Homo sapiens: one gene and its partners. The protein of the gene in region 2 interacts with the protein of the main gene of each other region in a pairwise test. Each region holds a gene or a part of one and is shown on either strand. Other genes may lie near its edges. The genes, in order: SLC39A9, CRB3, HMOX1 and TMEM222.

Region 1 (6,854 bases), on a different chromosome or scaffold from region 2:
ACAGATTCGTAGTCAGCATAAGTTCTGCCTTCTGGCCTCTTGGTAGGCTGTACCAGCAAAATGGTGTGAGACTGCAGGGGAAAACATGATTTCAATATAAGTTTCTATTTGAGAAATTCATAGTATGATAAAAAAAAATCCCCATTTGTAATGCAATAATGATTGCTAGTTATTAAAATGTAATTAGAGAGGCCAGGCATGGCATCCCATGCCTATAATCCTCATCCTCTGGGAGGCTGAGAGGGGGAAAATCACTTGAGGCCAGAAGCTTGAGACCAACCTGGGCAACATAGCAAGACCCTGTCTCTACAAAAAAATAAAATTTGCCGGGTGCATGCCTGTAGTCCCAGCACTTTGGAAGTCTAAGGCAGGAGGATTCCTTGAGCCCAGGAGGCTGAGACTGCAGTGTGCCATGATCACACCATTGCATCGGAGAGTGAGGCCCTATCTCTTAAAAGAAAAAAAAAAGTCATTAGGATACTTTTCCCACAAAAATATTGATGTCTTAGTCTAAGTATAGTATCTAGCTGGATTCACAACTCTGCTGTACGGTCTCCCTAAGTCTCCCAGTCCTACCGTACTTACTGCCTACAAGTAATCAGTATAAGCTACCTTGCCCTCCTTTTCCTTTTCTATCTTTTCTTCCCAACTAAATTATAAACCTGCTTAGGTTTTCTGTCTCCAGTGGTCACTTTCCATCTTTAATGCTCTTAAGTCACTAATAAAAACTCAGATGGGCTGATGAAAGGAAACAAAAGGGGAAATAGTATAATAATCACAAGCATGGTTTCAACTTAAGCTTTTTTTCCAACCTCAGCGTAAGAGCAAAGTCACATTTTATCCAGGGGTTAGACTTAACATTAAAGCAGTAGATAAATTAGCAATATAAACATATCATAAGAATTACCCTTAAAAATCCATTAAACTATTCACCTAGTAGATGACTTGCCTTACTGGGCTTTCTCATACCAAAATCACATATTAGAATCACACAGAAAGTTAGGTCATCACACTATGAGAAATGTGAAATAATGCCCATAGCAGACAGACTTGTCTTCCACTTCGTGCTCACTGGGAAACATGTTTTTGTTAGTGATCAGTCACTAACAAATCAATCTCAGTGTTTTCTCAACGTGGGCTCTATTACCTTTTGGGTTGACTGATTCTTTGTTACAAATGTCCCTTGGGGAGCAAAAAATCTCATCCAGCTGAGAATTCACTGGTCTGTTGAAAATATGACCCATCCAATTTTCTGCTACATGTGTAAGGTTAATTAAATGCAAGTATGATGCAACTCCACTGTAAATCCAGTCCCAAATCAAACTATTCACCTTTTTCCTTCTCTTCTGCTGTACTAGTATTTTTCAGCCAAAAACCAGAAAACAAAAATTTCCTAACAGGAACCCTAAACTGTTTTGGAATAACATAATTTTTTTTTGGAGACAGTTTTGTTCCTGTTGCCCAGGCTGGAGCGCAAAGGCGCGATCTCAGCTCACCGCAACCTCTGCTTTCCGGGTTCAAGCGAATCTTCTGCTTCAGCCTCCCAAGTAGCTGGGATTACAGGCATGCACCACCATGCTCGGCTAATTTTGTCTTTTTAGTAGAGATGGGGTTTCTCCATGTTGGTCAGACTGGTCTTGAACTCCCGACCTCAGGTGATCTGCCTGCCTCGGCCTCCCAAAGTGCTGGGATTACAGGCGTGAGCCACCGCGCCTGGACAAAATGATCAGAATTTTTAACCATCAAATTGGAACAGAAATAGCTGAAGCCCAGACTTTCTGAATAAACAATGGAAAAATAGTACATTTAACATGACATGCAAAACCAAGGGTTATCATACCCTTCTCTCCCCATCAAGAACTAAACCACTTTGACTAAAAGTTTCAGAGGGTTTGACATAAAAACGGAACTTGGTGACAAGAGACGAAGGATTAACTCTCACCTGTAATAACCTGAGCAGTCAAAGCCTTTGTTAAATCGATTTAAAAGCCACAGAAAGCATCATATTAGATTATTTGTTATACAGAAGTCTTTGTAAGCTAGCTACTCAAAAAGTTTCAACGAGTCATTTAAGAAAAAATAATTTTGTAGAAACCACGTGCATTCTTGCAACAGAGGTTGCCCTATACACTAGCTATCTCAACTGCTACTATAATAATTGTATTCCAATTCTAATGCAAATTAAAGGACTAATTTGAAAGGGTAAGAATGGAAAAAGCTATACAGCATGTTGCTTTTTATATCTAGTCTTAAAATGAACACCGGGCAAAGTTTACTATTTTCAGTACTTACTGCCCAAAGACAAGGATTAAAAATCACTAAGAACATAACATGATACATTTTAAAAACTGTGGTCAAGTGGTTATCATTTTTAAATGGCAATGCTTTCCTGCTCAAATTCTTTACAGATTATACCACCTCTCAAGCCAGTTTTGGTCACTTTCTTCGAATTGGAGCTTACTGATCATCCCGGTTGGGTTCTAATAGAGCTGGTCTCTGAGCTGAGCCTACTTTTCAGCCTCCAGCCCCAAGAGGATATAAATACAGATAAGTACAGGATCGAGGGCTGAGGGACGCGCCACACGCAATACCTAGAGGTCTCAAAAACAGGAAAAAAAAAAAAAAGGCAGAGCACAGGAAAACGAAAGCTGAAAAAACACTGCAAAGCAAATACGTCCTCTCCTGGCCCACATGCTGGGTATAGCTGGATCTGTCAGCTTCGAGAATAGTTAGACAACCCTGGCCCATTGTTCCTACAGCAGGCTAGAGCATTTGGAGGGAAAAATACCATATCCGGCAGGGCCCGGTGGCTCACGCCTGTAATCCCAGCACTTTGGGATGCCGAGGCGGGTGGATTGCTTGAGGTCAGGAGTTCGAGACCAGCCTGGCCAACATGGTGAAACGCCGTCTCTGCTAAAATAAAAAAATTAGCCGAGCGAGGTGGCGGGCGCCTGTAATCCCAGCTACTAGGGAGGCTGAGACAGGAGAATTGCTTCAACCCAGGAGGCAGAGGTTGCAGGGGTCTGAGATCCCGCCACTGCACTCCAGCCTGGGCGATAGAGTGAGACTCTCTATCTCAAAAAACAAAACACCTCCCCCACGTCTCCCTCTACCGAGTAACAATCGGGAGAGAGTTCATCCTCAGGCCCAAGGCACGCCGGACCCGAGCGAGCAGGCGGGCGCGCAACCGCAGGGCGGACCGGGGCTCCGAGGCCTAGAGTCAGGCCTGGCGTCCCTGCGGCGGGAAGAAGGGTCAATCCACCGACTAGAGTGGCGGGGAGCATCACGCGGCGCTGCATGGGGCTCGTGGGGAGGGGAAAACGTATGGGGCTGGGGTCGCTCTGGAGGCCGGGGACTCGGACTCGGGTAGCCGCGGAGGCCTTTCTCACCATCGCGCCAAACTCTCTTCGCTACAGCAGCTGCCGACACCGCCGCCGTTACACGAGCTTAACTACAACGCCGCTAACAGCCAATCCTCGCGAGAGGAGCCGCCGGAAGTCGTCGAAAGTGCAACGCAAAAGAGCCTTTTGGATCATAGAGGCACAGTCACTTCCGGCAGCTAGAGCAGCTACTGACTCTGTTTCAGCCATCTTCGATAAAGGCAAAAAGGTAAGGGAAAGTTTCCAAGCTTTAGGAAGAATTATTTTTTTTCAAGACGCTGTCTTCCGTACTTTCGTTATTAAACATACGGCTCAAGTGATCACCGGTATAGACAGTGACATCAGACATCTTTCATTAGCCCTACTCAAAAATGGCGGCAACGTAAGTATCCTGGGCCGGAGGTCGGTTGTAACCCGGAAGTGCCTTTGTAAAGGAGGGGGTGGTTAGACAATCCGGAAGTGGATGGAATGAAGAGATGCCACTTGGCGGCCATGGCAGCTGTAGTATCGGCGACTCCGGGTCAAGGCCCGGTCGAGTGCAGTACCATGGGCAGCACCGGGTATAGGGCAGAGACAGCTTTGTGTCAACTTTGCTGCTGAACCCCTAGGACCCATCGTTAGAGACCTGCAGGACTCCTTTCCTCATCCCAGGCTCGGAGGAGAGTTTGCTGGGACTGGTGGGCTGGTTTCCTGCTCTGGGGGGCGGATCACCTTCGGGGCCGCCTCTTGGAGACAGGGGCGCCTAGGGAACGAACAGGTTCGCTTGAGTCACTTACCCGCCGCCGCCTAAGACATTGTGCCACCCTCAATCCGACAATCGAAGAAATCGATCATTCGCACATTTTCCCCATTGACTTTTCCCATCTCTGTTAACCCACGAGAATCTAATGACTGGCATCTGAGAACCCAGAGCCTGGGACCTTAGATTGCTGTAAGCTTTCTCTGGTGCTAATATCAGCAAAAAGGGTCTGTTGCCGGGTACGTTCAAGAGGAAGGTGCCTCGTGAACACATCTGCTGGTGGGAAGGCCTAAAGAACTGGAAAGCCCACTCTCTTGGAACCACCACACCTGTTTAAAGAACCTAAGCACCATTTAAAGCCACTGGAAATTTGTTGTCTAGTGGTTGTGGGTGAATAAAGGAGGGCAGAATGGATGATTTCATCTCCATTAGCCTGCTGTCTCTGGCTATGTTGGTGGGATGTTACGTGGCCGGAATCATTCCCTTGGCTGTTAATTTCTCAGAGGTAAGAAATTCTCAATTTTCTGTCAGCTGTCAGGATGGCTGTGAGATAGTAGTTTTAGTTGCAAAGGGAAGCTGCTTCCCTAGTTAAATCTCAAAGCTGAAGGTCTCATTAAGAAAGACTATCTTTTTTAAAAGATACATGACACTTAATAATAGAAAGAAACCTCATATTCATTAGTGGAATTCTTAACCTGGGGTGGATAGATATTCCACGGAAGATCCTGGAGTATTCTGAATCCCCTAGAATTGCTTACAAAAATTTGAGGTTCTGTGCATTTACCTGGAGAGAGGCACCATAACATTTCTTTTGATTCTCAGAGGTTTCATGGAATCAAGATTCCAGATTGTTATCAAGAAAATAAATGGAGGGCTGGGCGCGGTGGCTCACGCCTGTAATCTCAGCACTTTGGGAGGCTGAGGTGGAAGGATCGCTTGGGCCCAGGAGTTCTAGACCAGCCTGGGCAACGTGGCGGGACTTTGTCCCTACAAATGAGGCTGAGGCAGGAGGATCGCTTGACCCCAAGTGGTTGAGGCTGCAGTGAGCCGTGTTTGGGCCACTGCACTCCAGCCTGGACAGCAGAGTGAGATCCTGTCTCCAAAAAAGAAAAAAAAAGAAATGGAGAATGTTATTTTTCTACATGAACTGAAATCAATATGATAACTTCCTTTTGAGAAAGTCAAACACACCTTTCTGAGGAAAGCTGTTTTGTTTTTTGGATGTCTGTACTAGAATGAATGTAAGAAAAAACTAAGATTGTTCTTAACTCACATTTCCTTTTAAAGAAGGGGAGCCTTGGAATTGATATTCTGAAGTTGTTTCAAATCTATTTGCTTAGCAATGAATTTTTGGTTAATACGTTTTGACATTTTCGTTAATTTGATTGGCACCTTGAACAGATGTTAAGCGAGGGTCCCGGGAAGAGGGATAGATGAAAGCACTGTTCAGTGAACATGCTGATAGGTCCTTTAGGTAGGCAAAAGGAATTCACGAAGTGCACAGCGTTCAAAGATTTAGGGGGGAAAAACTACTACATTCAAAGGGAACAAGATTTCATGAGTTTGTCCTAGAGTTCAGCAGTAAAATAGGCCCTAGTTTCAGTGCCATTCCTGAAAGTACTTTCAAAGGAGGCCTGAAGTAGAAAGGAAAGGTATAAATGAAATATTAAGTACACCTTGAAGAAACCTGAGGAAGAGGAGACATTACAGGTGAAAATAGCCTGTGGGTGGGAAAGAAGGTGGGACAAGGTGTTGTCAGTTTGAGGAAAAGTAAAGCCCATAGCCAGATGGAACAGATGCTTAAATTGTTGTTGTTCTTTTTCTGTTTCCTTTTTAATCTGTACCCCTCAGCATCTAATGATAGCATTTTAAAAAATTACGTGCATTACCTAACTTCACTTAAAAAACTCAAGCTGGGTGCGGTGGGGCGCGCCTGTAGTCCTAGCTACTCAAGAGGATAAGGTAGGAGGATTGCTTGAACCCAGGAGTTGGCCTGGGCAACATTGAGACTCTTTCTCTTAAAAAAAAAAAAAAAGAAAATAAAAATCAGTGACATATAGATGAGGAAACGGAGACTGGATAGGTTCATGAAGTTTGTTAGAATCAGAAGAGAGGTATTTTTTCAGTCTAGCTTTTCTGACTCAGACTAGTTCGTAGCCACTAAGCATTTCGGCAAAGGTACATGGTACATATACATGGTAGCCTGTGTGCCAAATCCAGCCTGCAGACTGTTCCATTAGCAGAAGTTTATTATTGTTGTTCTTTACCAGTATTTCCTAGAGGCAAAGGTTGGGTCGGGCTGAGTAGCAGCTGTTAGGCACAGTCCTCCTTGCCCTTGAAGCCTGTTTCACTTATTTGGGTTACCTGCCTGCCCAGTACTTTGTGAACCTGCTATGTTTCCTTTGACATAACCATATTTTCTTATAACTATATTAGAATTGAATTGACATTAGTAGGGCTGACATGTGTGAGATTTGGGTTGGTTTGTGTATTTTTAAACATATTGAAGTAACATTTATGAATAATCATAATTAATTCTGATAAGCAACCAGTAAAACTTTTTATTTCTATAAAATGCCTTTAACTTTACCAATTCCAGTATTTTTTCAAACTACCTTGAATGATTATTGCAATATGCGGATATATACTATTTCCTTTTTCACTAGAAGGAAATGTTTACAGGAGTGGTGTTAATAACTGGGTCATTAATACAGATAATTAGTATGTCATGTCAT
Region 2 (7,327 bases):
CTCGGCATTTGTCACTTCCATCTCAGCTAATGCACCCACCAGCTCAAACACACCAATAAAGCTTTTGTTACATCTCACTACTAATTTTATATAAATATATAAAAGTGAATAGCCCCATCCTCTCTTGACCTCAGGGGCAGAGTCTTTGAAGTACCTTCTTCCCTGCTATTAAGCACTGGGTGGATCTGACTGCCCAGAGAGGGCACTGCCTTTCCCCAAGGTCACACAGCAATGAAGGGAGACAGATGCAGGAGAGGGGACCTAGATGGGCAGGCAGCCCTGCACCGTCTCCTTGGAGTCCTGAGGGGCCCGGGCCTCGGCTGCATGGGAGAACTGAAAGAAAGGAGAGGGGGTTGTGGGGCCTGCTGGACACACAGAGAAAAGTTGGTTCCGCAAGCAGGGGGGTGGGTCCCGAGCCCCAGCACCCTGAGCTGCAGGCACAGCCAAGCAGAGGCAACATGCTGCACAGAGCCCACCACATGGGTGCCCCCAGCCTCTCCCCACAAGTCCTCCTGAGCCATCAGAGGCTGGTGTCTCGGTGGCAGCTGCGGTGTACAAGCCAGCAACCCGCAGTCCTGGGCAGTGTTGGTGGCTGCAGCAGGCCCCAGCGTTCAGATGAGCCGCTCTTCCGGCGGCAACTTGAGGTTGGGGGTCGGTGGCACGCGGGCACCCACCTGCTCCTCGCTACTGGGCCGGTAGGTGCCCTCCGTCTGCCGCTTCTCCCGAAGCTTCCGCACCAACAGTGCCAGCCCCACAGCCAGGAGCAAGGCAGCCAAGAGGGAGAAGACCACGATGATAGCAGTGATGGCTTCTGGACGCTGCAGAGAGGGGACAGGTGTGAATCACCTGAGCCTGGGTAGCCTGTCCACCTCCACCTGAATGGCATCCCCCTCATCACCCCCTACCCCACAACACACACACACACATACACACATCTGCCACTTTTGGTGATCTGATCCCCACAGTGGGGCTTCCTGGATCCCTACCTACCTTGTCTGGGGTGCGAAGGCTCCCCACCACCTGCCATGTCCGGGACACCCCTCGCAAGCACCTGCCATGTCTGGGACTCCGGCTTTTTTTTTTGAGACCGAGTCTTGCTCTGTTGCCCAGGCTGGAGTGCAGTGTCACAATCTCGGCTCACTGCAACCTCCGCCTTCTGGGCTCAAGCAATTCCCCCTGCCTCAGCCTCCCAAGTAGCTGGGATTACAGGTGTGTGCCACCCCGCCTGGCTAATTTTTTGTATTTTTAGTAGAGACAGGGTTTCACCATGTTGGCCGTGCTGGTTTCAAACTCCTGACCTCATGATTTTCCTGCCTCGGCCTCCCAAGGTGTTAGGATTACAGGCGTGAGCCACCGCGCCCGGCCGGGACTCCTGCTTTCATCACATCTACCAAGTCTGAGCTCCTTGCTCCCCCACCCACCTGAGAGGCATATGGAATTCCTGAGCCCACACATCTGACAGCTACAGTATTCCTGCCCACTCCCTCCAGGGTGTCCTAGTCTTCTTGGTCTAAGACTTCAGGTCTCTCCTACTTAGAGCTCTCCAAAGCCACCCTGACCTGCCACCTCTGGGGGGAGGGGGTGTCTAGTCCTCTCTACATGCTATATGTGTGACCCCTAGATAACATCCTTGCTGCCATCTTCCCACATATACCTCCAACTCACCAGGTTGCCATCGGAGCTGGAGCTGGTGGATGAAGGCAAAACAGTGCTATTCTCATTTGCAGAAGTGGTCTGTACTGTGGAGGGTGAAGGCAGAGAATAACTCAGTCTCCATCTTTCTCTCCCATCCCCGCCCATCTGCACCTGCTTTGGGCATTCCCCTTCACCTCCCCCTAGCAGGTCCCAATTCAAACTCTGCCTTTCATTCGCACAGAGATGGTTGGGTGTCTTGCAGGTAAGACCTCTCCCTTGGGTGTTTGCTCCCCAGGACACCCCCCCGACCCAGTCCCGCAGAGCCCAGTAGGGTGTCCAGAAGTCCACCCCTCCCCTACTCACCTCTCGGCCCTGGGCCCTTAAGGATCTGGGCGGGCCTAGCTTTTCCCTGGAGTGTCTGACTCACACCTCCCCACAGGCTCCCAAAACAAATCTAAGACTGAATGGCTGGGGTCTACACCTTCAGCCAACCAGGTCGACCCGGCTCGGCAGGCCTCCTCCCAGCTCCCAGTTCACCCAAAAACACCTGCACTATACCAAGACTCAGGTACGCAGCCCTTACCTCCCCCCAAGTCCTACTTAGGAGCCCCCACTCCAACACACAATTCCACCTCGCTGGGGAACTCAGGTCTCCTAGACCAACTCCCAGTGTCCAAGGAAGAAACTAGAAATCTTAATCCCCCCGAGCCCTAACCCTGTAGACCCCTCCCCAAGGTATTTCTTCCCCGCTCCCCAATTCTTGACCCTCTCTGCGCCCCAGATACCCAGCGCTTCTAAGCCACGTCCCCAGCAGAGATCCAGGAATCCAGACCCCTCCCCCCCAGCGCTCTCAGCTGGTACCTACTTTGCCCCCAGGCTCGGCCCCAGCGGGCCAGCAGGAACGGCAGGCCCAGCGCCAGAAGCAGCCCCAGCCCGGGGTTCGCCATGGGCTGGGTGGCGGGTTGGCAGCGCCGAGGAAGGGGCTTCTCGCGCTCGCCCCTCCTACCGCATCTCCGGCCAGGGGCACCTGCGACGGGGCACCTGGGGACAGGAGAAGGAGAGGCCCAGGCGTTGGGATCGGGGTGGGGACCCCGGCGCAGGCCCACAGGAGAGACAACTGGCGCCAGGGCACCCATGAGTCCCGCCCCGCCCCAGCCGCCAGAGGTCAGCGATTAAAGATTAACTCCCAGGAGCGCGTTCCTGGGCTGGGGAAAGGAAGGGGACGGGACGGGACGGGACGGGACGGGCAGGGTGGACGGGCGAGGGGGCAGGCCTAGCGGTGCGTCCTGCCTTCCTACCTGGCCCGGGCGTCTTTGACCTAGCTCAGGTTCCTGGTCCGTGTCCCTCCCTCGAACCCTCGGTCCGTCGGTCGTTCTGTGGGTCCGACCCCACCGGCTCCGCCCTGTCACGTGACCCGGAAAGTTTAGTCACTCACCTGGGAGAGCGCACTTCCGGCTTGTGCACCTGAGCCTCGCTGAGAGGGCGGAGTCAAGAAGGGGGCGGGGCCGCGCTGTGGGCGCACCTGTAACGGGACCCCAGTCCCTTAATGGGGATGCGGGGAGGGAGACCGCGGAAGCGCGCAGGTGTGAGGGGGACCTTACACCTGCATTGCGAGCATATCTGTGGGAGCGCACAGGTGTGGAGACGCACGGGGTATGTATGTACCCGTGCACTAGGCACTCCTGCCTAGGGCAGACTTGGATGGGGAGCGCTTAATGAGAAAAAATACCTGCCCAGGCGCAATGGCTCACGCCTGTAATCCCAACACTTTGAGAGGCCGAGGCAAGAGGATTGCTTGAGGCCAGGAGTCCGAGACCAGCCTGGGCAACACAGCGAGGCCTCATTCTCTACAAAAAATAAATAAATAAATAAACAAATAAATAAAAAGAAGAAAATAAGCCGGGGGCGGTGGCGTGATCCTGTAATCCCAGCGCTTTGAAAGGCCGAAGTAAGAGAATCACTTGAGGCCAGGAGTTCGAGATCAGCCTGGCCCACAGACGGAGGCCCCATATTTACAAAAAATAAGAAAATTAGCCAGATGTGATGGCACGCACCTGTAGCCCCAGCTACTTGGGAGGCTGAGGTGGGAGGATCGATTGGGCCCAGGAGTGGAGGTAACAGTGAGTGAGCTATGATTGTACCACTGTACTCCAGCCTGGGTGACAAAGTGAGACCCTGTCTCTAAAAAAATTTTAAAAACAAAAAAACAGCTGTATGGTAAACACCTGTGTGGAACCAAACCTGTACAGAAGACAACTGCACAGGTGTTCACATATAAGAACATACAGAAAACAGATGGCCGGGTGCGGCGGCTCACGCCTGTAATCCCAGTACTTTGGGAGGCCTAGGCAGGAGGATCACCTGACGTCAGGAGTTCGAAACCAGACCAGCCTGCCCAACATGGTGAAACCTTGTCTCTACTAAAAATACAAAAATTAGCCGGGTGTGGTGGCAGGTGCCTGTAATCTCAGCTACTCGGGGGGCGCTGAGGCAGGAGAATTGCTTGAACTCAGGAGACAGAGATTGCAGTGAGCCGAGATTGCACCATTGCACTCCACCCTGGGTGACAAGAGTGAAACTCCATCTCATAAAAAAAAAAAAAAATCTGCATTGAATCACAGCTATACGAAATATAGCCAAGGCTGGGCATGGTGGCCCACGCCTGTAATCCTAGCACTTTGGGAGGCCGAGGCAGGTGGATCACGAGGTCACGAGTTCGAGACCAGCCTAGCCAAGATGGTGAAATCCCCGTCTCTACTAAAAAATAATCAAAAATTAGCTAGCGTAGTGGTGGGCGCCTGTAATCCTAGCTACTTGGGAGGCTGAGGCAGGAGAATCGCTTGAACCCTGGAGGCGGAGGTTGCAGTGAGCCGAGATCACGCCACTGCACTCTAGCCTGGGTGACAGAGCAAGACTGTCAAAAAAAGAAAAGAAATATAACCAAATGGATACATACCACCAGGGTGGACAGTATCTCTATAGAACACGCCTGCATTATCATCACAAACAGCTAACTAAGGCACTCTGATGTGGAATAGACCTGTTTTAGGAACATATCTGCATGGCTCACCTATGAAATGTACGGCACTTGCATTGGGGGAATTCCTGGGTGTCAGTGTCTTGTAAATACCTGTATGAGACACACCTGCATTTACGTAAACCTGTATGGGACTCGGTTGTATGGAAACATACCCAGATGGGTGTATACTTAACTGAAACACACCTACGGGGCGGGAGACTGTAGAATGCATTCATGGGTGGAGGGAAACCTGCTCAGAAACATACCTGTGAGGTAAGAGAAAGCACCTTGTAGGAGGAACACCTGTATGGAATTGAGCTCAAGTGAGGGGAAGAACTTGGAACATCTGCACGGGGCACACTCACATTGACACACATCTGTGGGTAAAACCATCAGGGCAGGGGCTCACATACACTGAGGCCCACCTGTCAAGAATGTATCTGTGAGAAAACACCTATTTAGGGGCACTTACATGGAAAAAAACCTCTGTATCACTCCATGCTGTATGGCACCTGCAAGGAACAACTGTAAATGAAAACCTCTGCTGGGGAGCCTCTTAGAAGAGACTCATTTGTCTGGGGCACACCTGTTCCAGCACACCTGTCTAGGCAGAGGCTGGGCGTGAACTAAATATGCCCTCACGACTGTATCTTTGTTTTCTTTCCTTTTTAAAAAAAATAATAATAATTATTATTATTATTTGTAGAGTTGGGTGTCTTGCTATATTGCCCAGGCCGGTCTCAAACTCCTGACCCCAAGCGATCCTCCCATCTCGGCCTCTCAAATTGCTAGAATTAGAGGCCTAAGCCACCGAGACCGGCCAATGCTGTATCTTTGGATAAAGGATGATGATAATAACAAGACCCCCTCCTGAGGACCCTTGGGTGACAAGTGATGATTAAAGAATAATTAGGCCAGGCCGGGCGCGGTGACTCACGCCTGTAATCCCAGCACTTTGGGAGGCTGAAGCGGGAGGATAATCTGAGGTCAGGTGTTCGAGACCAGCCTGGTCCACAGGTGAAACCCCCCCCCCCCGTCTCTAATAAAAATACAAAACTCACGGCTGCGGTCGGGCATGGTGGCTCATGCCTGTAATCCCAGCACTTTGGGAGGCCGAGGCGGGCGGATCACGAGGTCAGGAGTTTGAGACCAGCCTAACCAACATGGTGAAACCCCGTCTCTACTAAAAATACAAAAATTAGCCGGGCGTGGTGGTGTGCGCCTGTAATCTCAGCTACTTGGGAGGCTGAGGCGGGAGCATTGCTTGAACCCGGGAGGCGGAGGTTGTGGTGAGCTGAGATCGTGCCATTGCACTCCAGCCTGGGCAATAAGAGCGAAACTCCATCTCAAAAAAAAAAAAAAAAAAAAAAAAAAAAAAAAAAAAAAAAAAAAAAAACTCACTGCTGCGTGCGATGGCTCACGCCTATAATCCCAGCACTTTGGGAGGCTGAGGCGGGCGGATCACGAGGTCAGGAGTTCGAGACCAGCCTGGCCAACATGGTGAAACCCCGTCTCCACTAAAAATACAAAAATTAGCTGGGTTTGGTGGCGGGCGCCTGTAATCCCAGCTACTCGGGAGGCTGAGGCAAAAGAATCGTTTGAATCCGGGAGGCGGAGGTTGCAGTGAGCCGAGATCGCGCCATTGCACTCCAGCCTGAGCAACAACAGCGAAACTCCGTTTCAAAAAAAAAAAAAAAAAAAAGATAATTAATTCTTTCTAGGGTATAGAGTGATGGTTAAGGATCCCAGATCTCTTTAAACCCTGTTTTGCCCCTTAGTGGTCATCAGGACTGGGGAGAATGACTTAACCTCCGCTTCCTTATCTGCAAAGTGCGAACGCCAGTACCACCTACCTTATAGGGTTTTGGCAAAGACGACTCGAGAGGTGAGTAAAAGCCCTGGCATGTGCAAAGCACTGAATCAAAGTGAGATTTGTTATCGAGTATTCGCTGTCAAGTGGTCTGGGCTCCCTTCCCCCTAATGGTGGATCGAGAAACTGCGCCCGAAACTAGCAGTAGGGACATTCCGCAGGTGCAGCGAGTGCGACAGGCTGGGGCCCTGCCTCCAGCGCTCGACCACTGGGATCCTCAACCCCGCGCCCGGGTCACTGAGCCACCCCCTCCCCACGCCGCTCAGCGTCTGATTGCGGCCGCGGCCCCTTTAAGATCTCCTGGCAGGCGGTGGGACTGCGGGCTGGAGGCAGTCGGGGGTCTGCGGGGAGGCCCCGCCTAGGTGGGAGAAGAGGCGGGGCGGGCGGGCTCAGCCCAGGAGGCGCTGACCAATAGGAAACCGACTTTGCAGCCGCGCCGCGCGTTGATTTTCTGTTTCCCAGTCAGAGTGGGAACCGAGAAAGGAAGCGCGCGGGCGGGAAGAAGGGACAGTGGGAGAGCATCGCTCCTGGATCTTCTGTTTCTGCGGCCGAGCGGGGAAGGTGTAAGGCGCGGGCGGGCAGAGAGCGAGCGAGATGGTGCACGGTTCTTGCGTGCGTCTGGGAAAAGCGAGAACTTGAGTTCCTGAAGATTAGTGGGTGTGGCGGGGAGGTCAAGTGGAAGGGGATTATGAAACCCAATCCCCGACAGCGCTCTACCTTGCCCCCTTGGGCAAAGGGGGAAAGGGTAAACTGAGGCACGCAGAGGCGGAACTCTGAAACCAGACCTGAGACCACTGAGCTCC
Region 3 (7,023 bases), on a different chromosome or scaffold from region 2:
ATTTATTTTATTTTATCTGAGACAGAGTCTCACTCTGTTGTCCGGGCTGGAGTGCAATGGCAAGATCTCGGTGCCCTGAAACCTCCGCATCCTAAGTTCAAGCGATTCTCCTGCCTCAGCCTCCCAAGTAGCTGGGACTACAGGTGCCCACCACCACACCTGGCCAATTTTTGTATTTTTTTAGTAGAGACAGGGTTTTACCATGTTGGCCAGGCTGGTCTCGAACTCCTGACCTCAGATGATCCACCCGTCTTGGTCTCCCAAAGTGCTGGGATTAGAGGTGTGAGCCACCACCCGGCCGAGACATGCTTTAATGAGGAGAGATTTAATCTGTGGTTCCAGGCTGGGTGGGGTCCTTGGGCCTGTAATGGGTCTTCCTCATCCTCCTCCCCTCTCCCTTAAAAAGATGAGGTACACCCAGTTGCTGCAGTGTGACTGGAGACAGTGGGTGCAGGGAGGTGAATGCTGGAATATCCCATCCCCAGCCAGCTTAGACTTTGGATTTTGCCTCTAAGTCACAGGGTTCTAAGGAGGCGCCAAGATCCATGAGAGAATCCAGTGCTCACTTACATTAAGCTGGTGGACGTGGCACTTATCACAGCCCTTCTCATGTGAGCGCTAAGTGCCAGGCTGCCCTCTGTGCTGGCCCAGATCCTCTCACTTAATCCTCACACCAGCCCCATCTAGTATGTGGCAGGTGAGGGAACTGACTAGCACAGTTGGCTAGCACAGTCACACGGACCTCAGATCATCTGCTCTAGGATAGGATAGGAAGCTGGGACCAGAGAAAGCAAGTGGCTCACCCATGGTCACACAGTTAAGGACTGGCAGAGTTGGGTAAGAACCAGGTCCGTCACACTCAAAAACCCAGGCTCTTTTGTACCAGACTGCCTGGCTTTCTGTCCCCTCAAGGAATAGAGCTGCTTTGAATGTTTGTGGCTCAGAAATAACTCAGAAACTCCAACCTAAATGTCTTAACTTTGTTCTCCTTCAAATTTAAACGGGCGTATTAATGTGTAACGGGAGTTAGTGCCCCAAGCCAAGGTACACTCAAGACCTGTTGCCTCAGCCCAGCATGCAGAGGTGGTGGGGTTCAGAATAGGCCTCCAGGAAGGAGAATTGTGCCCTGTAGTTGGTTACGCAGAGGTCAAAAGCCAGAAGCACATGGCCAATCTCCTTTAAGCACTTTCATTTCAGCTGTTCCCCTCTCCTGAGCCATGGTGGGTCCCTGGCAATGCCCGGTCTTCAATCTAGTTTCATTTCTTACTAGCTGTGCAACCTCCATGTCTCATACCCTCTCTGAGCCTTAGTTTCCTTTTCTGTAAAATGGGAATAGCAATTCCTTTGTTGGATTTTTTTTTTTTTTTTTTCTGAGACAGGGTCTTGCTCACTCTGTTCCCCAAGCTGGAGTACAGTGATATGATCACAGCTCACTGCAACCTTGAAATCCTGGGCTCAAGTGATACCCCTGCCTCCGCCTCTGGAGTAGCTGGGACTATAGGCATGCACCCCCACAGCCATACCTGGCTTTTTTTTTTTTTTTTTTTTTTCTGAGTCAAAGTCTTGCTCTGTCGCCCAGGCTGGAGCGCAATGGCGTGATCTCGGCTCACTGCAACCACTGCCTCCTGGGTTCAAGCAATTCTCCTGACTCAGCCTCCCGAGTAGCTGGGATTATAGGTGCCTGCCACCATGCCTGGCCAATTTTTGTGTTTTTAGTAGAGATAGGGTTTCACCATATTGCCCAGGCTGGTCTCTTGGCCAGGCTGGTCTCGAACTCCTGATCTCGTGATCCGCCTGCCTCAGCCTCCCAAAGTGCTGGGATTACAGGCGTGAGCCACCGCGTCCAGCTGGCTAGTTTATTTATTTATTTATTTATTTTTATTTATTTTTTTGAGACAGAATTTCGCTGTGTTGCCCAGGCTGGAGTGCAGTGGCGAGATCTCAGCTCACTGCAAGCTCCACCTCCCGGGTTCACGCCATTCTCCTGCCTCAGCCTCCTGAGTAGCTGGAACTACAGGCGCCCGCCACCACGCCCGGCTAATTTTTTTGTATTTTTAATAGAGACGGGGTTTCACCTTGTTAGCCAGGATGGTCTTGATGTCCTGACCTTGTGATCCTCCCGCCTCGGCCTCCCAAAGTGCTGGGATTACAGGCGTGAGCCACCGCACCTGGCCCCAGCCAGCTAGTTTTTTAAAATAATTTTTTGTAGAGGTGGGTTTTGGGCTATGTTGCCCAGGCTGGTCTCAGACTCCTGGCTTTAAGCAATCCTCCAGCCTTAGCCTCCCAAAGTGCAGGGATTACAGGGGTTTGAGCCACCACACTGGGCCAGTTTGTTAGATCTTTATATAAGGATTCAATTAGGCTGCTTGTTTTGCCCAGTGGGGTAAAAGGTTTTTAGGCTGAGAAAGTGCATGATCGTCTTTTCCTCTTGTAAAAACCCCTCTGGCTGCTGTGTGAAGAGGATTGTAGCGAGGGGTGGCAGAAGGAGTCAGAGCCCAGCTGCGAAGTGAGGAGGGCCTTTCCAAAGGCAGTAGTGGACGGGACGGACAGAGGTGGGGGTCTTCTATGTGGCTGGCGGCCTGACCTGCTCACTCTGCTTTCAGCTGGTGATGGCCTCCCTGTACCACATCTATGTGGCCCTGGAGGAGGAGATTGAGCGCAACAAGGAGAGCCCAGTCTTCGCCCCTGTCTACTTCCCAGAAGAGCTGCACCGCAAGGCTGCCCTGGAGCAGGACCTGGCCTTCTGGTACGGGCCCCGCTGGCAGGAGGTCATCCCCTACACACCAGCCATGCAGCGCTATGTGAAGCGGCTCCACGAGGTGGGGCGCACAGAGCCCGAGCTGCTGGTGGCCCACGCCTACACCCGCTACCTGGGTGACCTGTCTGGGGGCCAGGTGCTCAAAAAGATTGCCCAGAAAGCCCTGGACCTGCCCAGCTCTGGCGAGGGCCTGGCCTTCTTCACCTTCCCCAACATTGCCAGTGCCACCAAGTTCAAGCAGCTCTACCGCTCCCGCATGAACTCCCTGGAGATGACTCCCGCAGTCAGGCAGAGGGTGATAGAAGAGGCCAAGACTGCGTTCCTGCTCAACATCCAGGTGAGGGTCGGGCAGCCTGGGGCAGCCTCTGCCTCCCCCCGTTGTTCCTCCAAGGGACCCTTCTCATTGTAGGGGAGGGTGCTATAGGTCATGGTTAACACAGGGAACCAGAGTTCCAGCACTGCCACTTACTAGCTGGGTGATCTTGGGCAAATGCCTTCATCTCTCTGTACCTCAGTTTCCCTATCTGTAAAATAGGGATAATAATGGTACCTATATCTTAGACTTATAAGGCTTGAGTGAATTTACAGCAGTAAAGTCCCCACAGCAGTGTCTGGCACAGAGGAAGCCCTCAAACATTCACTACTGTCATAATGGGACATGAGAATCAGTTGTAGCTCTCTGTGACAACAGTCTGTGGCAATGTATAAGTTGTGTGTGCACTAGTGTATAGCCAGGTTGGCACTCCCAGGGTTACAGGTGGCCTCTGCCTTCCAGGGACTCTCAGCCTAGCCAGAGAGGTTTACCTCTTTCTACAAGTGTCTCAAATCCAGGGGGAAGGTGGGGTTTGCGCAAAGCCTGGAAGGATGAATTCTTGGGCAGAGGTGGAGGGGTGAGGGGCTCCTTCTAACCAGATGTCATAGAGCCTTCTCTCTCTGCCACCCCCTGGAGGTGCCATGGGGCCTGGGGCTCGGGGTCATGCCCTCCTGGCTCCCTACTCCCAGCCGTGGATTGCAGAAGATTCTGGTCCTGGCCCCTGTTACGGAACAAGGCCTTTCCCTTCCACCCTCCCCCTTCAGAAAATCCAGTCCGTCTTGGAGGAAGAAAATCTGTGTCTTTCAGAGAAGTGTAGGCAAAAGAAAAGGGCCAGGTGCAGTGGCTCGCGCCTGTAATCCCAGCACTTTGGGAAGCCGAGGTGGGCGGATTGCTTGAGCTCAGGAGTTTCAGACCAGCCTGAGCAACATGGTGAGACCCTGTCTCTATCAAAAATAAAAAATAAAAAAAAATTTAAAGGAAAAAAATGTTTTTAAAAGAAAAGGGATTTGGAATCAGAACTGGCTCTCAGGCTCGTGCCTATAATACCAACACTTTGGGAGGCCAAAGCAGGAAAATGGCTTGAGCCCAGGAGTTTGAGACCAGCCCTGGCAACACAGTGAGACCCCATCTCTACAAAAACATGAAAAAATTAGCCAGACATAGTAGCGTGCACCTGTAGTCCCAGCTACTTGGGAGGCTGAGGTGGGAGGATTGCTTGAGCCCAGGAGGTCAAGGCTGCAGTAAGCCATGATTATGCTACTGCACTCCAGCCTGGGCAACGGCAACAGAGCAAGACTCTGTCTCAAAAACCAAAAAAACAAAAACAAAAACAAAAAAAAACGGCTCTTGGCTGGCCGGGCGTGGTGGGTCACGCCTGTAATTCCAGCACTTTGGGAGGCCGAGGCGGGTGGATCACGAAGTCAGGAGATCGAGACCATCCTGACTAACACGGTGAAACCCCATCTCTACTAAAAAAAAGAAAATACAAAAAAAATTAGCTGGGCATGGTGGTGGGCACCTGTAGTCCCAGCTACTCAGGAGGCTGAGGCAGGAGAATGGCGTGAACCCGGGAGGCGGAGCTTGCAGTGAGCAGAGATCGCGCCACTGCACTCCAGCCTGGGAGACAGAGTGAGACTCCGTATTAAAAACAAAAAACAAACAAAAAAAAACGGCTCTTAGTGCCTGACCTCTGGATCAGTCCTTGGGCAAAGCACTTAACCTGTAGGAGCTACAGTTTCCTCATCTGCAAGGCTAACAAATACCATTCAGCACACCTCACCAAGGCTGAATTTCACAAATCTAAACTCAAGAGAAGAAAGCAGCGGCAGAAGAGTGCATGTACTAGGATACCACTTAATATTATTTCAAAACAAGCAACGCAGCCTTTTGCATGGAGACACAGGCTAAGGACATGGGCGGCCACAGTGAACTCTAAATCCAGGATCATTGTTATCGGTTGGGAGGGCAAGAGCAGGCAGGGGAGCCAATTGGGCTTGGAACATCTTATCTCTTAAGGTGGATGAAAGGGATATGAATTTTCTTTCTTTCTTTCTTTCTTTCTCTCTTTCTTTCTTTCTTTCTTTCTTTTTCTTTCTTTTCTCTCTCTCTCTCTCTCTCTCTCCTCTCTCTCTCTCTCTTCTTTCTTCTTTCTTTCTTTCTTTCTTTCTTCTTTCTTTCTTTCTTTCTTCTCCTTCCTTCCTTCCTTCCTTCCTTCCTTCCTTCCTTCCTTCCTTCCTTCCTTCCTTTCTTTCTTTCTTTCTTTCTTTCTTTCTTTCTATCTTTCTTTCTTTCTTTCTTTTCTTTCTTTCTTGCAGAGTCTCGCCCTGTCACCCGGGCTGGAGTGCAATGGGGCGATCTTGGCTCACTGCAACCTCAGCTTCCCAGGTTCAAGCATTTCTCCTGCCTCAGCCTCCCGAGTAGCTGGGATTACAGGCATGCACCACCACGCCCGGCTAATTTTTTGTATCTTTACTAGAGATGGGGTTTCACTATGTTGGCTAGGCTGGTCTCAAACTTCTGACCCGTGATGTGCCCATCTTGGCCTCCCAAAGTGCTGGGATTACAGGGGCGCACCACCGTGTCCGGCCAATATTTTTCTTACCATCTTGTTATTTCCAAAGTATTTCCTAACACAACTTAAGGTCCTACCTTCAGCTGGGACCTGGTAGCATCTCTCACTGAGATAGGCATGTGTGTCTTTTGTCTTTTAGCTCTTTGAGGAGTTGCAGGAGCTGCTGACCCATGACACCAAGGACCAGAGCCCCTCACGGGCACCAGGGCTTCGCCAGCGGGCCAGCAACAAAGTGCAAGGTGAGAGCATCCAGGAAGGGGCACTTCCTCTGGGCTACACATGGAGGGACTTGGCTGTCTGACTGTAGTATCTCTATTCCTCTGTTTTCTGAATGTTTGGTGGTGGTGGGTGTTGTTTCCTGCTGCCCCACCCCACTGCCCCTGTAAGGACAGGTTCTCGCTATATTGCCCAGGCCAGTCTTGAACACCTGACTTCAAGCAATCCTCTTGCCTCTGCCTCCCCACATGCTGCAGTTACAGGCGCGAGCCACCATGCCAGCCTGAATGTTTGTTGTTGTTGTTGTTTGAGATGGAGTCTCACCCAGGCTGGAGTGCAGTGGCGCGATCTCAGCTCACTGCAACCTCTGCCTCCCGGGTTCAAGCAATTATCCTGCCTCAGCCCCCCGAGTAGCTGGGATTACAGGCGCCCACCACCATGCCTGGCTAATTTTTTTTTTGTATGTTTAGTAGAGATGGGGTTTCACCATGTTGGCCAGGCTGGTCTCGAACTCCTGACCTCAGGTGATCCGCCCACCTTGGCCTCCCAAAGTGCTGAGATTACAGGCGTGAGTCACTGTGCCCGGCCACCTGCGTGTTTTTGTATGAGAAGTGGAGTGCAGGCAAAAGGACCTGGGGTCAACCTTCAGCGTGTGGCTCTGGGCAAGCCATGAGACTTCTCCCTACCTCAGTTTCCCCACCCGTAAAATCCAGTGAGGTTCAGCTACTTCTAGCTTATTGGCTCAGAAGTGCACAAGAACCCCTCAGAAATCATGGGAAACTCCTGCCTCCTTAATTTAGACTCCTTTTTAGGCCTTTGGTCCCCTGATGTGGGCCAGGGAGTTGGGGACCTGTATCCAGCTATGAACCCACCACAGGAAGATGTCCCTTCTGAGTCTTGTTGTGTGTGAGCCCCTCCCTCATGTGCCTAAGAACGATCAAGGCTGGCTGTACTGAAACATCTTGGAAACTTCCAAAAAGACCAAAGTGCTCCACAAAATGTACCCTCACTAAGCCTAAAACACTGAGGGAGGGAGTGTGGCTTTGGGATGGGTAGCAATAAAGAGGTAAGGCTTAGCTACCTCCTGGCAGGTTATATTAGGCCTCCCCTCCTGTGCCACCCTAACCTACCTGGCTTGTGGCTTTCTCACTTGTGCCAGACCAC
Region 4 (7,497 bases), on a different chromosome or scaffold from region 2:
ACAGATCTTTGGGTTCCATTTCCTCCTCTGATCTCTCCTCCAAAGACAGGTGACAGTTACTTGCGCCACATCTATGCCTAGCTCTGCAATCATCACTATACAGTAATACTACGATGGCTAATTGACCTTTCTCTCCCTCCTGCTGGAGGTGAGTCCTTTGAAGGTGACATGGTTTGGATCTGTCCCCGCCAAATCTCCTGTCAAACTGTAGTCCCCATATTGGAGGTGGGGGCTGGTGGTGGGATCATGAGGCTGGTTTTCTCATAAATGGTTCAGCACCATCCCTTTGGTGCTGTTCTCGTGATAGTGAGTTTTCCCAAGATCTGGTTGTTTAAAAGTGTGTAGCATCTCCCCCCTCACTCCCTCTTGCTCCTAATCCCGCCATGTGAGATGCCTCCCTCCCCCTTTGCCTTACACCATAACTGGAAGCTTCCTGAGGTCTCCCCAGAAGCAGAAGCCACTATGCTTCCTGTATAGCCTGCAGAAGCATGGGTCAATTAAACCTCTTTTCTTTAGAAATTATCCAGTCTCAAGTATTAGTGCAAGAATGGACTAACACAGAAGGGAACATGAACCCTTTGACAGGAACACAGTGTCTTATTCATCTTGGTCTTATGAACACCTGTACACAGATCTGAATAGAAATGGGCTATGAGCTGCTTTTGGCCCAGGTGACAAGGGATTGTGGTGCCTCCACCTCACGCTGCTACCATTCTCCGCAGAGGACCACGCCACAGATGGTGTTTTTGAGAATAAGAAAGGCTAAAGAGAGTTTAGGATCACAAGACAGGTTTTAAGAAAACCAATACATTTCCTGAGTATCCCTCCCAGTTATTTTCTTTTTTTTTGAAACGGAGTTTTGCTCTTGTTGTCCAGGCTGGAGTGCAAAAGCACGATCTTGGCTCACCGCAACCTCCACCTCCCGGGTTCAAGTGATTCTCCTGCCTCGGCCTCCTGAGTAGCTGGGATTACAGGCATGTGCCACCACCCCGGCTAATTTTGTATTTTTAGTAGAGATGGGGTTTCTCCATGTTGGTCAGGCTTGTCTTGAACTCCTGACCTCAGGTGATTCGCCCGCCTGGGCCTCCCAAAGTGCTGGGATTACAGGCCTGAGCCACCACGCCCGGCCCCTGTTATTTTCACACTAATATTTTATTTTCTTCACAGCACTCATCACTATCAGGTGCTCTTTTATTAGCTTACTTGTTTACTGTCTATCTCCTTCCACTATGACTTAAACTCTCAAAAGTCTAAAGACCATATCTCCTTTATTCATCACTGTATATTCGCATCACCTAGAACTATCTGGGAACACAGGGGTCACTTAGCACATGTGTTAGAAGAACACTGAATGAATTAATGTGCACATTTTCCTAAGATTTTATTTCACTATTTATTTTGAGACGGAGTTTCACTGTGTTGCCCATGCTGAAGTGCAGTGGTGCAATCTCGGCTCACTGCAAACTCCACTTCCCGGGTTGAGGCGATTCTCCTGCCTCAGCTTCCAGAGTAGCTGGGATTACAGGCACGTGCCACTATGCCCAGCTAATTTTTGTATTTTTAGTAGAGACGGGTTTCGCCACGATGGCCAGGTTGGTCTCGAACTACCTACCGATCCACCCTCCACTGCCTCCCAGAGTGCTGGGATTACAGGCATGAGCCACCGCGCCTGTCCCAATATTTTATTTTTAAAGAACAGATTTGGATGCTCTTATATGCATAAGTACTTGAAAACACAAAATAATTCAAGTATTTTAACATAATTCAAAAACTACGATCTTTTTAGAATCAGCAACACCTAAGGCCCCAAATGATCCCTTCTCCACATCACCACTGGCTGTTATTGATAGCGGAACAAGCTATCCCATCAGGTGAGAGTGGATAAGATGTAGTGCAAAGAGCAAGTTAGATCAGAAGACTGAGCTCTTCATGCCTTTGCTTATTGGGGTGCGAACCTGATCAAGACACTTAATGCTACAAGCAGCTCAGCTTCACCATCTGAGAAGATAACCTACCTTAGAAAATGGATGTTTAATTCTGATAAAATGGGTGTTTAAGAGCTTGGCAAACTATCCAGCACGGTGAGGAGGGGTTACGTTTATCAGCTGTCAAGGTTGAAGCAGGAGGGCAAACCACCTCTCCCCATATGAGAGCTCCTCCCAAAAGGCGCCAAGTAGTACCAGAGCACCTGCTTCTCCCCTGACAAAGGCTGATGTTACAGAAAGAACTTTGGTCTGGGAGGCAGACAACCTGGGATCTAAACCCAGTTTGCAACTGAGATGGCACGTGAGACAAAGGGTTGGACTCTCAGATCTCTGGGGGCCCTTCCAATGTTGACATCCCAGGATCTCGTGTGGTCCCAACCAAACTCCCACTCTTGCTCCCAGACCCAGCAGTATGTCTGGAATATGGTAAGCGACCAGTAAGCATTTGCTCAATGAGAGAATAAACCAGTGAATTAATAAAAATGTCTCCTCAGATCCGATAAGGGGCTCCCTCTTCTACACACTCACAGCTCGAGTCTCCCAGCCACTTGCCCTTTCCTGCTGGCCTACAACTCTCTCCCTGGCTACACCAGGTGTATTGAGAGCAGGGAGCGTGTCCCAGCCGTGTGCACAAACTGGCACTACATGGATGGCGGGGTTCTGGTGACTGGGCGAGGCGTGCGGGCCAGACCCGAGGAAAAGGCTTGCTGCGCGTTGGGGCCGGAGGCTAGCCCGGCCCGACTCCGGCTCTCCCTGGGCCCTCCTCGTCCCCAGGCGGATGCCGGAAGAGACTCACGTGAGCACCGGGATGGGCGTCCACACCACGCAGTAGGGGAAGCGACTCCGTTCCACATCCATGGCGACGCCGCCGGAGCCTTGATATTGCTTCATGTCCGTCTCGGCCGCCGTCGGCGCCTCCACTTCCGCCATCCTGGGCGGGGGTGGCGGCGGCGGCAACAAGAGCAGAGAACTCCCTTCCGCTTCCGCCATGCGGCGCGCGCCCCGCTCCGACTGGCCCCGGCTCTGGTGCCGCTCGTCCCCATGGCGTCACTTCCCGGAGATGGGGTCCGCCCCGCTTGGCCTTCCCCCGGGAATCCGAGCCGCGTTCCTCTGGGCCCGGCCAGCCCCGCCCCACTCCCTATGCGCCTGCCAGCCCCGAGTCTTTGCCGCTTATGCCCCGCGGCTGCAGAAGGGATGCTCTCAGGCAGTTCGCAGTCTAGCGCCGGAGACTTATAGAGAACTCTAATTCAGTACGCTGAGGGCTCCTAGGAGGTGTGGTACAGTCGCTATTTATTGAGCACTTCTTAGGTGCCAAGCACTTGACATGAATTGTTTCTAATCCCCATAAACTAATTAGACATCCAAATTAGGTATTCCCTCCTGTTACAGGTGAGAAACTGAGGTTCAAAAGGTGAGAGACCACGATGCAAACCCAAGTCTTTTTTTTTTTTTTTTTTTCTGAGGCGGAATTTTTTCTCTTGTTGCCCAGGCTGGAGGGCAATGGCACAATCTCGGCTCACTGCAACCTCCACCTCCCAGGTTCAGGCGATCCTGCCTCGGCCTCCCGAGTAGCTGGGATAACAGGCGCGTGCCACCACGCCCGGCTAATTTTTGTATTTTTAGTAGAGGTGGCGTTTCACCATGTTAGCCAGGATGGTCTCAAACTCCTGACCCTGTGATCCGCCCGCCTTGGCCTCCCAAAGTGCTGGGATTACAGGCGTGAGCCACCGCGCCTGGCCCAAACCCAAGTCTTATACCTCCCTTGCCCTTTTCATTCTGTGGCCCTCTCACGAGGTAGTGGTAGCATAAAGGAAGACACACACAGTTGTGTGTGCGCACGTGTGTGTGTGTGTGTGTTTTATTGTATATACAGGGAAGACTTGCTGGAAGATAGGATATTATTGAGTTGAGTCTTGATGTTTGCCATGTGGCACAGGAGTGGAAGTATGAGTGCAGCGGTACAAAGAAAGGAAGGCCGTGCAGAGCAGTGTGTGCAAGAGTGTGAATACTTACTGGAGTAAATCATAAGCCTTAGATGTGATCCAATCCCTTCATTGTACAAATGGGAAAACGGGCTCAGGGAAGTTAATTGTTTGAGATCACACACAACCATAATTAGAGAGAAGCCAGGCTCAAATGTTGGAGACTTTTGGCTTTTTAAAGGATGTCAAGACAAAGAAAATGAAGTCTACTGGGGTCTACTGGGGTGGGGAGGGGAAGTTGGGGACAGCCCAAAGTCAGAAGGAAGGCTGCCACTAAAAATCAGCCTTAAAGAAAAAAAAAAAAGAATAAAAAGAGTAATCAGGTAAAGGAAGGTATGGACAAATGCACTCAGGAAGTTAGGAGCTTCCCATTTGGGGAAGGTCCTTCTTCCACTGAATTACCCTCCCTCAATGCTGATCTATGGAGAGCTTGCTGTCCTGTTTGTAGCACCTAATATTTTCATGTTTTTTTGTGGGGGATGTCTGTCTCTGCTATAGAACTCTAAGGTCCTTGACTTCAGTAGCTGGCACAGTTCCTGGTGCAAAGCATATGCCCACTAGATGTTTACTGATTTATTAGGTGATTGAATAAATGGATGTTTTATAAAGACCTCAGAGATTCGCAGGCATGATAATGATTACAGTGGGTTAGAAAATGATTCTAACCCACTCCAAATTCTTTGAGCACGTTTGTACCTCTCCTTGACCCCTGTGCAGTGTGTGATCCTTGAAGGGCAACAACCAGCATCCAGCACAGGGTTTGGAATAGATTAGGTGTGTAGTTTACAGTTGTTGAGAATAAATTACATGACTTCTTGATTCAATCACTGTAGTTATCTAATCTCTTCTGGACCACAGGCTGTGAGGAAGGTCTGTGCCTTAGACATCTCCCTACCATGACTGTCAGCCCATAATTCTAGCACAGGGTTGCTGGGTACCCTTTAAACATTTATTGTAGGTATTGATGAATAAACAACCAAAGTAAGTCTCTCAGGGCCTGCCACAAGTTTGGTAGTACTAATACACGTACCACATTTAATCTGCCAAACTTCAATGGCTTCCCGTTGCACTTCGTATGAAACACAAATATCTTACTATGGCTCACAAAGCCCTGCACCATCTGGACCCATGCCCCTTCCTTATTTACTATACTACAGCCATCCTGGCCTTTTCTTTCAGTTCCTCTCATGCACTCCTTCATATTCCAGGGACTTGGCACACACTGTTCCCCTCTGCCTGAAATACTACTCCTATCTACTTAAAGCGGCTAACTTTCATTCTTCCAGTCTCAGATCAAATATTACTTTCTCAGCCCATCCCTGGTCTCCCAATCTAAATGAGAAAGCCCCCATTAATCTCCTGTTCTTTTTCTTCATAGCTTCTTTGTAGCTATGTACTATTTGCCTCCCCCACTTGACTGGAAACTCTATTTGTCTTGCTAACGTGTGTATACCCAATGCCCAGTATAGTGCCTAGTGCATGGTATTTGTTTAATCAATATTTGTTAAATTGAATGAAAGGCAAATACTTACAGGCTTGGTATCACGTGCTGGTTACAGTCTAAACGCAGGAACCTGCTACCTCTTGGTGTCCCAAACCTTTTCAATGGGCTTGGGTTGGTGGGAACAGTGCTCAGGCAGAGGATCAGACCACAGAGCCCTGGCTCCTTTCCTAAGGTCCACGTCATCCTACCCTTGGCCTAGGCAGCTGCAGAAACGTGGCATGAGGAGGGCCGGGTACCTGGAGGTAGAAGCCAGATCCTCTGGTGCCTGTCCCACAGGCTTGCCCCGCACCACAACCCATCCACAAGATTTTTTTTTTTTTTTTTTTTTTTTTTTGAGACAGAGTCTCACTCTGTCACCAGGCTGGAGTGCAGTGGCACAATCTTGGTTCACTGCAACCTTTGCCTCCTGGGTTCAAGCAATTCTCCTGCCTCAGCCTCCCCGAGTAGCTGGGACTACAGGTGCGCAACACCACACCCAGCTAATTTTTGTATTTTTAGCAGAGATGGGGTTTCACCATGTTTGGCCAGGATGGTCTTGATCTTTTGACCTTGTGATCCACCTGCGTCAGCCTCCCAAAGTGCTGGGATTACAGGCATAAGCCACCGTGCCCGGCCTTTTTTTTTTTTTTTTTTTTTTAAATAATGGATTCATCCCTGCAGAACACTCCTTCTCACATATACACCTTGGTTCTCTCACCCAATTGTAAGAGTCTCTCTGGCCTGTGCCCTGGACTCCTCTGCTGTTGCTTCCTTATCACCCATAAACAGATGGGAAATCTCCATCAAAGACTAATATTTCCTTCCAGGCTCACAGGATCACAGCAGGGTCCTGGAGGAAGCTCCTGTTATGGCTGAGCTTGGGACAGGATTGATAGGTTTCAGAGCTATCCCTCCCCCAACACACACCCCAACCTAAAATAGGAATGACCATCTGGATCCACTTATGGGTTTGGCTGGGGGAGGGAAGGATGCCAGAGCTGAAACTGTCAAGCTGGGAAACCTTTGAGGGTAAGATGCTGCTTGTTTGAAGGGTGAGCTTGGGGCATTTCCTCTCTTGGTGGGAGTCAGCGCACCCCCTCAATTGGCCCCATGTATAAGTCCCCAGGACTCACAAATCTCCTCTTTCAGGATATCTCGCTCCTGGCATTCAAGGCCCCTCATGATGCCCTCAAATTTTCCTTCCAGCCTCATTTCTCACAGTCTCCTTCGGGACTTGCCTGGAGTTAGCCTCACTGGCCTGTTTGCCCTTCACAGAACAAGTCCTGCACTTCATACCCTGTGTGTTGGCTCACACCATTCCCTCATCGGGGATGTCCTTCCTTTCCTCTTCTACACTACTTTCAAGGTTTCAGGCAAATGCTCCCTCTTTGCTCCCAGAGCACGAAGGCTGTGTTTCCACCTATTGAATATTCATGTGTACTTGCATTAGCATTAGCTGTTTACATGTCTGTCGCTCCCAAGAGACTGTGAACTCCTTGAGAAGGGGACTAACTGGATCTATTGGTCCCTGTATCCAACTAGGCAACTGGCAGAGAGGAAGTGCTCAGGTAATGTCACTGGAGTTATTTGTTGACTGTAGATGTCTCCTTAAGGGCTCTGGGGAAGAATCACCTCAATCCAGGGAAAGAGCCTGAGCCAGGGGCATGCTGCAGTATATGCAGCATGTGGGAGGACAGCGTACTCTCTTCTGCTCAGCTTCATCATTGCCCTCTCTGGCCCCTGGAAGCTGGGCCTCTTTCCATTATGACTCCAAACCTTCCCATGGTGGGGAGGAGATTAAGGGGACCAACTCAGTGCAATAAACTATTTCAGAGCAAACCCACTGGTCCTTTAGACATCAGAGTTCACAAAACGACTTCCTTTTCCATTCCATTTTTTTGTTTTATTTGGAAATGGAGTCTCCCTTTGTCACCCTGGCTGGAGTGCAGTGGGGCCATCTCGGGTCACTGCAACCTCTGCCTCACGGGTTCAAGTGATTCTCCTGCCTCAGCCTTCTTAGTAAGCTGGGATTACAGGTGCACACCAC

Evidence for each region.
Region 1: the proteins of CRB3 (region 2) and SLC39A9 interact in binary tests that used the Homo sapiens proteins (3 or more experiments, as listed by UniProt).
Region 3: the proteins of CRB3 (region 2) and HMOX1 interact in binary tests that used the Homo sapiens proteins (3 or more experiments, as listed by UniProt).
Region 4: the proteins of CRB3 (region 2) and TMEM222 interact in binary tests that used the Homo sapiens proteins (3 or more experiments, as listed by UniProt).

Annotation. Positions count from the first base shown.
Region 1 is NC_000014.9:69,394,842-69,401,695, forward strand, and holds the start of SLC39A9 (zinc transporter ZIP9), read left to right. Parts: upstream 1-3,850; 5' UTR 3,851-4,528; coding exon 4,529-4,624; intron 4,625-6,854. Other genes in the region: ERH (enhancer of rudimentary homolog), read right to left, coding at 1-71, 3,390-3,392. UniProt on the Homo sapiens protein: Transports zinc ions across cell and organelle membranes into the cytoplasm and regulates intracellular zinc homeostasis. Participates in the zinc ions efflux out of the secretory compartments.
Region 2 is NC_000019.10:6,459,957-6,467,283, reverse strand, and holds CRB3 (protein crumbs homolog 3 isoform a precursor), read right to left. Parts: upstream 3,014-7,327; 5' UTR 2,934-3,013; intron 2,677-2,933; 5' UTR 2,583-2,676; coding exon 2,501-2,582; intron 1,740-2,500; coding exon 1,666-1,739; intron 819-1,665; coding exon 612-818; 3' UTR 334-611; coding exon of another isoform or gene 262-333; 3' UTR 63-261; downstream 1-62. UniProt on the Homo sapiens protein: Involved in the establishment of cell polarity in mammalian epithelial cells. Regulates the morphogenesis of tight junctions.
Region 3 is NC_000022.11:35,384,082-35,391,104, forward strand, and holds part of HMOX1 (heme oxygenase 1), read left to right. Parts: intron 1-2,603; coding exon 2,604-3,095; intron 3,096-5,782; coding exon 5,783-5,882; intron 5,883-7,023.
Region 4 is NC_000001.11:27,317,676-27,325,172, reverse strand, and holds the start of TMEM222 (transmembrane protein 222), read right to left. Parts: upstream 3,011-7,497; 5' UTR 2,976-3,010; coding exon 2,782-2,975; intron 1,300-2,781; exon of another isoform or gene 1-1,299.